Homo sapiens: one gene and its partner. The protein of the gene in region 1 interacts with the protein of each later gene in a pairwise test. Each region holds a gene or a part of one and is shown in the gene's direction. Other genes may lie near its edges.

Region 1 (3,750 bases):
TCTCTAAAATGCACACTGGAAAGTACAAAGTGCATGGAGTGCACATGCACTTTGAAAGGTTGCATCCTATGTTGCACAATGAAAAACCCTATAATTTCATTCAGAGTAGACCTGCATAGTTTCCAATGATGTTGTTATCACCCAAGATATTTCTGAAAGTTCTTTTGGGAACTTCCTTCATATTCAATTTGCAGGTCACTCAAGAAAGTAGGTTTGTCCCCTTATTATTAGACATCATTTTGGGTTTAAAACCGTATTTCCGGGCTTGATCATCCACCTTGTTTACCAGCTTTGTTTCAAATGACTCTTGGCAATTTCCAGAATTGATCCTAAAATGGATAAAATCCCTATCTGTAATCAAGGTATTTGAGACAAATATGTATGACAAGTTCTCATGAGTTTCAAAGTATGTGGAACAATGACAGTATTGTAGGAATGTGTATATAAGTTCCAAAAATACTTGACTTTTAAATAATATCCATTTTGCAGGAGTCCTGAATAGCCTCACGTAACACTTCACTGAAAGTCTGCTATCCAGAGATGTGTCAAAAGCAGTAACTGTGCTTGGCTGAGTTTGTAATAATCAAAGTGTTAATCAGCTGTCCCCAAGCTTCCTAGCTACTGATACGAAATCTAAAAAGATGGGCTGGGTGCAGTGGCTCACACCTGTAATCCCAGCACTTTGGAAGGCCAAGGCAGGAGGACCGCTAAGAGTCCAGGAGTAAGACCAGCCTGGGCAACATAGTAAGACCCTGTCTCTAATGTTAATAATTTTAAAAAAATTTAAAGAAAGGAATCCAAAAAGAAGATAAAGGTCTTTCATATTCCTTTCCACTTCCAGTGTTTTATTGCAATGTTTCCCACCTCCAATTTCTACCTGTGCTTCCCCACCTCTGTTCCTCTCTATCCCCAACTCTTCTAATTGCCTTTTCTTGTCTTCATTCCCAGGGAGGGATGATCATCATTCTCTTGTGCAGTGTGGCCGTCACAGTTCTCTCTGCCATCAATGTGGGGAAGAGCATCATGTTTGCCATGACACCACTCTTGATTGCCACCTCCTCCCTGATGCCTTTTATTGGCTTTCTGCTGGGTTATGTTCTCTCTGCTCTCTTCTGCCTCAATGGACGGTAGGTATTTTTTTTTTTTTTAAGAAAGGGTCTCACTCTGTTGCCCAGGCTGGAGGGGAGTAGCACATTCTCAGCTCACTGCAGCCTCAACCTCCAGGGTTTAACTGATCCTCCTGCCTCAGCCCCCCAAGTAACTGGGACTATAGGCACAAGCCACCATGACCAGCTGATTTAACTTTTCTGGAGACAGGGTTTTACCATGTTGCCCAGGCTAGTTTTGAACTAATGAGCTCAAGTGATCCACCTGCCTCAGCCTTCCAAAGTGCTAGGATTACAGGTGTGAGCCACTGCATGCCTGGAGATAGGTATTATTTTAGGTCCCACTGTCCCATGGGCTTCATTCTTGTCCTAGTCTTTCAGGAAACGAATAAGAAGCTAGGAACCTGAAATCTGGGCAAGACACTTTCCTGGCAATATGTTCAGATGCACTAACTGGACAAGAGACTTTAGACTTGAAAAAAATTGAATGAAGGTATTGAACGGGTTAAAAATCCAGACACCAAAGGTATCCAAACACCAGCAGCAATAGCAAAGTACCCCTGTCCAGGGTCTAGATTCCATCTGCTGCGAAACTCTTTGGTAGCAGCACTGGGACAAAGTTGCTCCCTCCAGTTCCCTCTGAGTGTATGTGGGGTTTTCTTCACCGGCACAGGTGCAGACGCACTGTCAGCATGGAGACTGGATGCCAAAATGTCCAACTCTGTTCCACCATCCTCAATGTGGCCTTTCCACCTGAAGTCATTGGACCACTTTTCTTCTTTCCCCTCCTCTACATGATTTTCCAGCTTGGAGAAGGGCTTCTCCTCATTGCCATATTTTGGTGCTATGAGAAATTCAAGACTCCCAAGGGTGAGTACTGAAATTATCCCCACTTCAAGTTCTGCTCCAATATTAGACCTGAGCCTGCCAACAAGCAAGTTTCTAGCAGGGACTTTTTGGATAGGGCTTTAACTCTTATCAAGTCACTAAGAACCAGGTAGCCCCAAGAAGCACCCAAGAAGCATTAAAGATCCAAGACTACTTCCATCAACTGCACTCCATTTCTTCCTTCTAGCTGGGAGAATGAAATTGCAGATGCAGTTTACCTCATAAAACTGAAGCAATTTGGGCTGCTTTGTCTCAGTGGGGAGACATCATAGGACAAAACTGCCTTGGACAACTGAGGTTATTAGTTGTGTGAAAGGCCTCTATTCGCAAGAGTTGGGGAAGTTTCCATTTCTCAGGACTAGGTTCTCATTTCCTGGAACCAGATCAGAGCCACAGCACCACTGGCACCTCCGTATGAGGAAAAACATATGAAAGCAATGCACCCTAATATAACCCAGAATAAAGAAAAAAAAAAAAGATTCCTCAACTCTAGTTACGCAGTAAAGGAAACTTAAGCATACGGTTGTTAAACAGTAACTACCTCCACAATAAACTTAATATGATTTATACTTTACTCTGATCACTATGGGGTTAACATAGCATCTCTTCTCTAAAATGCTCAGAGTATTACCTTTCAAAATAAAATTGAACCTCAAGACAGACCAGAGAACAGAGTGCCTTCCTCAAAGTGCACTTTAACACCAATTTTAAAAAAAAAAAAAAAAAAAAAAAAAAACAGGACATTCAAACCCACTTTATAACACATTTCATTATAACTCTCAACATTAGTATATTCTTCCTAAGTACCTACCCAAATCCTTCAACTGTCCCTTCATGTCCATGAATTGAAGTCCCCTTCAAAACCTTTCTAGACCCTAGGGACTGTGATTTACACCCTAGGAGAAATACACAACTTTCCCTATTGGAATTTGTTACATTATACTAGCAAGCAAATGCCGATTCTCTCTCCCTTTGCAATTAGCTAAGATGTAATTAGGTTGCCAAGCAGCCAACACGAAACAAGTACAGGCTGACCATACACTAGAACCATTTTAGAAGCTTTGGTTCAAAGCTACAGTAGAGTTGTGAGAAAGAATCTACTCTGATGCTTATCTGAGAGGAACGCAAGAGATTTGCTGCCCTCTTACAAAAAGTGCACAGAAGTTTCTAGACCAACCAAATTCCCAGATTTGAGGTTTTAGTACCAGAAAGACCTGAAGTGACCTCAAAGGACAATACTCTATGGATCTTTAGCTCTCAAGACTTGAAAAGAACTTTCCTCACAGTGTATCTCAGAAGACCCCAGTGGAAACACTAAATCAAAGCAACGTATTTCTTTGGACCTAATGGCCCCAAGAAGCTATTCTCAGGGGGGAGGAATCTGTCAAGTTTTTATACTTTTCATTCCTGCACCTGATGGGAGAACAACTCTGTATAGAGAACTCTCCCATCTGTATAGAAAGGTGCAGGAATCAAAGCTATCTTCAAATTTGCATCACCGCCTACACCACGGACAAGAAGAGGTAGATCAATTGGGGGTTGGAGGGAAGAACTGGAAACTCTCTTGGTTAGACTTTCTCGAAGATCTTTCCTGCCTGCCTCCTCATTCCCTGAATGCAACACAGACCTTGCATACATAAACTCATCTCCTGTTGTTTTACTGTATAACGAAGTTAGAAGTGAAGTGATGATGAAGACACAATAGTCTAATTCATTAGGACTTTTACTACTAGTACTACCATTAGGGAGACTGAGG
Region 2 (3,750 bases), about 47 Mb from region 1:
AGCCAGGTGTGGTGGCGGGCACCTGTAATCCTAGCTACTTGGGAGGCTGAGGCAGGAGACTCACTTGAACCCAAGAGGTGGAGGTTGCAGTGATCCAAGATCACACCATTGCACTCCAGCCTGGGTGACAAGAGTGAAACTCTGTCTCTAAATAAATAAATAAATAGGCTAACTGAGTTTTCATTTGGCCATTTAGATCATGGATAAGCAGATGTTTATGCTTCCTGGGACACAAGGGGCCTGGTGGCACCAGGGGAGGAGAAAGCCAGCAGCAGTCAAGAGTATCTCATGTCCTGCTCTCCTCTACTCCCATAGGTTCCAGAAGCTACACCTGGCCTGTGGCTCAGAGCGCTTAACCCTACGCTCCCCTCTCCAGCCACTGATCTCCCTGTGTGAGGCACCTCCCAGCCCTCTGCAGCTGCCCGGGGGCAACGTCACCATCACTTACAGCTATGCTGGGGCCAGAGCACCCATGGGCCAGGGCTTCCTGCTCTCCTACAGCCAAGGTAGGCTGGACAGGGATGTCTGAGGAGCAGGCAGTGAAAGCCCCAGGCAGAAGGGGAGGATCCTGAGGGTTCTGGTGCTTCACAGCCCCTCTCCATGGTGCCTCTGCAGATTGGCTGATGTGCCTGCAGGAAGAGTTTCAGTGCCTGAACCACCGCTGTGTATCTGCTGTCCAGCGCTGTGATGGGGTTGATGCCTGTGGCGATGGCTCTGATGAAGCAGGTTGCAGCTCAGACCCCTTCCCTGGCCTGACCCCAAGACCCGTCCCCTCCCTGCCTTGCAATGTCACCTTGGAGGACTTCTATGGGGTCTTCTCCTCTCCTGGATATACACACCTAGCCTCAGTCTCCCACCCCCAGTCCTGCCATTGGCTGCTGGACCCCCATGATGGCCGGCGGCTGGCCGTGCGCTTCACAGCCCTGGACTTGGGCTTTGGAGATGCAGTGCATGTGTATGACGGCCCTGGGCCCCCTGAGAGCTCCCGACTACTGCGTAGTCTCACCCACTTCAGCAATGGCAAGGCTGTCACTGTGGAGACACTGTCTGGCCAGGCTGTTGTGTCCTACCACACAGTTGCTTGGAGCAATGGTCGTGGCTTCAATGCCACCTACCATGTGCGGGGCTATTGCTTGCCTTGGGACAGACCCTGTGGCTTAGGCTCTGGCCTGGGAGCTGGCGAAGGCCTAGGTGAGCGCTGCTACAGTGAGGCACAGCGCTGTGACGGCTCATGGGACTGTGCTGACGGCACAGATGAGGAGGACTGCCCAGGCTGCCCACCTGGACACTTCCCCTGTGGGGCTGCTGGCACCTCTGGTGCCACAGCCTGCTACCTGCCTGCTGACCGCTGCAACTACCAGACTTTCTGTGCTGATGGAGCAGATGAGAGACGCTGTCGGCATTGCCAGCCTGGCAATTTCCGATGCCGGGACGAGAAGTGCGTGTATGAGACGTGGGTGTGCGATGGGCAGCCAGACTGTGCGGACGGCAGTGATGAGTGGGACTGCTCCTATGTTCTGCCCCGCAAGGTCATTACAGCTGCAGTCATTGGCAGCCTAGTGTGCGGCCTGCTCCTGGTCATCGCCCTGGGCTGCACCTGCAAGCTCTATGCCATTCGCACCCAGGAGTACAGGTCAGTGGGAGTGGGGCTGGCAGTAGAAGAGTAGACCCTGAGGGTGAGGCTGGGCTGTGCAGCTACAGGAGACCACGAAAGTGCCCACCTTGGGGAGAGGCTCCCATGATCAGCTTGTCAGTTGTGTCCTGTAAGGGACAGGTCCAGATCCTGAAAGCAGTTTCAAGGGAGGAGGGACCTCAGATGACCTTTGGGAAAGCCATGGCACAGCTCCAGCTGGCCTGGCCCGGGTGTGGAAGTGGGAGGACTGTCCAGGCTGAGGTGGTCTACTCTGGCCGAGAACTACCAGTGACTGAGCAGTCCTCATTCCTTCTAGCATCTTTGCCCCCCTCTCCCGGATGGAGGCTGAGATTGTGCAGCAGCAGGCACCCCCTTCCTACGGGCAGCTCATTGCCCAGGGTGCCATCCCACCTGTAGAAGACTTTCCTACAGAGAATCCTAATGATGTAAGTCACTCCCCACAACCCTAGCACCTCCTGGTCCCAGTTCTGCTGTGGCCCCGCCCCTGTACCCTCCTTCATTCAGCCTTTGGCCCTCTGACTCTGAGGCCTCCTCATTTCCTTGCAGAACTCAGTGCTGGGCAACCTGCGTTCTCTGCTACAGATCTTACGCCAGGATATGACTCCAGGAGGTGGCCCAGGTGCCCGCCGTCGTCAGCGGGGCCGCTTGATGCGACGCCTGGTACGCCGTCTCCGCCGCTGGGGCTTGCTCCCTCGAACCAACACCCCGGCTCGGGCCTCTGAGGCCAGATCCCAGGTCACACCTTCTGCTGCTCCCCTTGAGGCCCTAGATGGTGGCACAGGTCCAGCCCGTGAGGGCGGGGCAGTGGGTGGGCAAGATGGGGAGCAGGCACCCCCACTGCCCATCAAGGCTCCCCTCCCATCTGCTAGCACGTCTCCAGCCCCCACTACTGTCCCTGAAGCCCCAGGGCCACTGCCCTCACTGCCCCTAGAGCCATCACTATTGTCTGGAGTGGTGCAGGCCCTGCGAGGCCGCCTGTTGCCCAGCCTGGGGCCCCCAGGACCAACCCGGAGCCCCCCTGGACCCCACACAGCAGTCCTGGCCCTGGAAGATGAGGACGATGTGCTACTGGTGCCACTGGCTGAGCCGGGGGTGTGGGTAGCTGAGGCAGAGGATGAGCCACTGCTTACCTGAGGGGACCTGGGGGCTCTACTGAGGCCTCTCCCCTGGGGGCTCTACTCATAGTGGCACAACCTTTTAGAGGTGGGTCAGCCTCCCCTCCACCACTTCCTTCCCTGTCCCTGGATTTCAGGGACTTGGTGGGCCTCCCGTTGACCCTATGTAGCTGCTATAAAGTTAAGTGTCCCTCAGGCAGGGAGAGGGCTCACAGAGTCTCCTCTGTACGTGGCCATGGCCAGACACCCCAGTCCCTTCACCACCACCTGCTCCCCACGCCACCACCATTTGGGTGGCTGTTTTTAAAAAGTAAAGTTCTTAGAGGATCATAGGTCTGGACACTCCATCCTTGCCAAACCTCTACCCAAAAGTGGCCTTAAGCACCGGAATGCCAATTAACTAGAGACCCTCCAGCCCCCAAGGGGAGGATTTGGGCAGAACCTGAGGTTTTGCCATCCACAATCCCTCCTACAGGGCCTGGCTCACAAAAAGAGTGCAACAAATGCTTCTATTCCATAGCTACGGCATTGCTCAGTAAGTTGAGGTCAAAAATAAAGGAATCATACATCTCAAAATTTTGCAAATTAGCTGCGAGCCTGAGCCCCGCCTCTGCCCATCTCAGTCTATGCTCACCTCATCCCACTCCTCCCTGTGGAGCCCTTTGCTTGGCCCTCTACCTCCTGCCCTCTTCCTGTTCATCTCCCAACCACTGCACTCTTGATTTTTATACCACACAGAAGGTAAGAAAATTCTAGGAACCCTAAGGATCAATCCTCTCCATTTTCACTCAAATGCCTGGGGCCCAGCTCTGCAATGACTGACTCCAGGGCCTCTTTCCTCACTGCCAGCATAGAAGTCAGGGGAGCCAGCTGGGCCCTGCGGTCAGGAAGGTTCTCATTTTTGGAGCATACCCTGAGCCCAGATCATAGGAGCAGCTGTCCCTGGTGGGACACAGGAGTCATGACTCCTACCCTCCACCC

Evidence for each region. Proteins that work in one complex are often made in the same cells at the same time.
Region 2: the proteins of SLC10A1 (region 1) and LRP10 interact in binary tests that used the Homo sapiens proteins (3 or more experiments, as listed by UniProt).

The regions. Positions count from the first base shown.
Region 1 is NC_000014.9:69,776,559-69,780,308, reverse strand, and holds part of SLC10A1 (hepatic sodium/bile acid cotransporter), read left to right. Parts: intron 1-948; coding exon 949-1,127; intron 1,128-1,779; coding exon 1,780-1,976; intron 1,977-3,750. UniProt on the Homo sapiens protein: As a major transporter of conjugated bile salts from plasma into the hepatocyte, it plays a key role in the enterohepatic circulation of bile salts necessary for the solubilization and absorption of dietary fat and fat-soluble vitamins.
Region 2 is NC_000014.9:22,874,740-22,878,489, forward strand, and holds part of LRP10 (low-density lipoprotein receptor-related protein 10 isoform 1 precursor), read left to right. Parts: intron 1-315; coding exon 316-506; intron 507-591; coding exon of another isoform or gene 592-615; coding exon 616-1,633; intron 1,634-1,949; coding exon 1,950-2,079; intron 2,080-2,200; coding exon 2,201-2,788; 3' UTR 2,789-3,750. UniProt on the Homo sapiens protein: Probable receptor, which is involved in the internalization of lipophilic molecules and/or signal transduction. May be involved in the uptake of lipoprotein APOE in liver.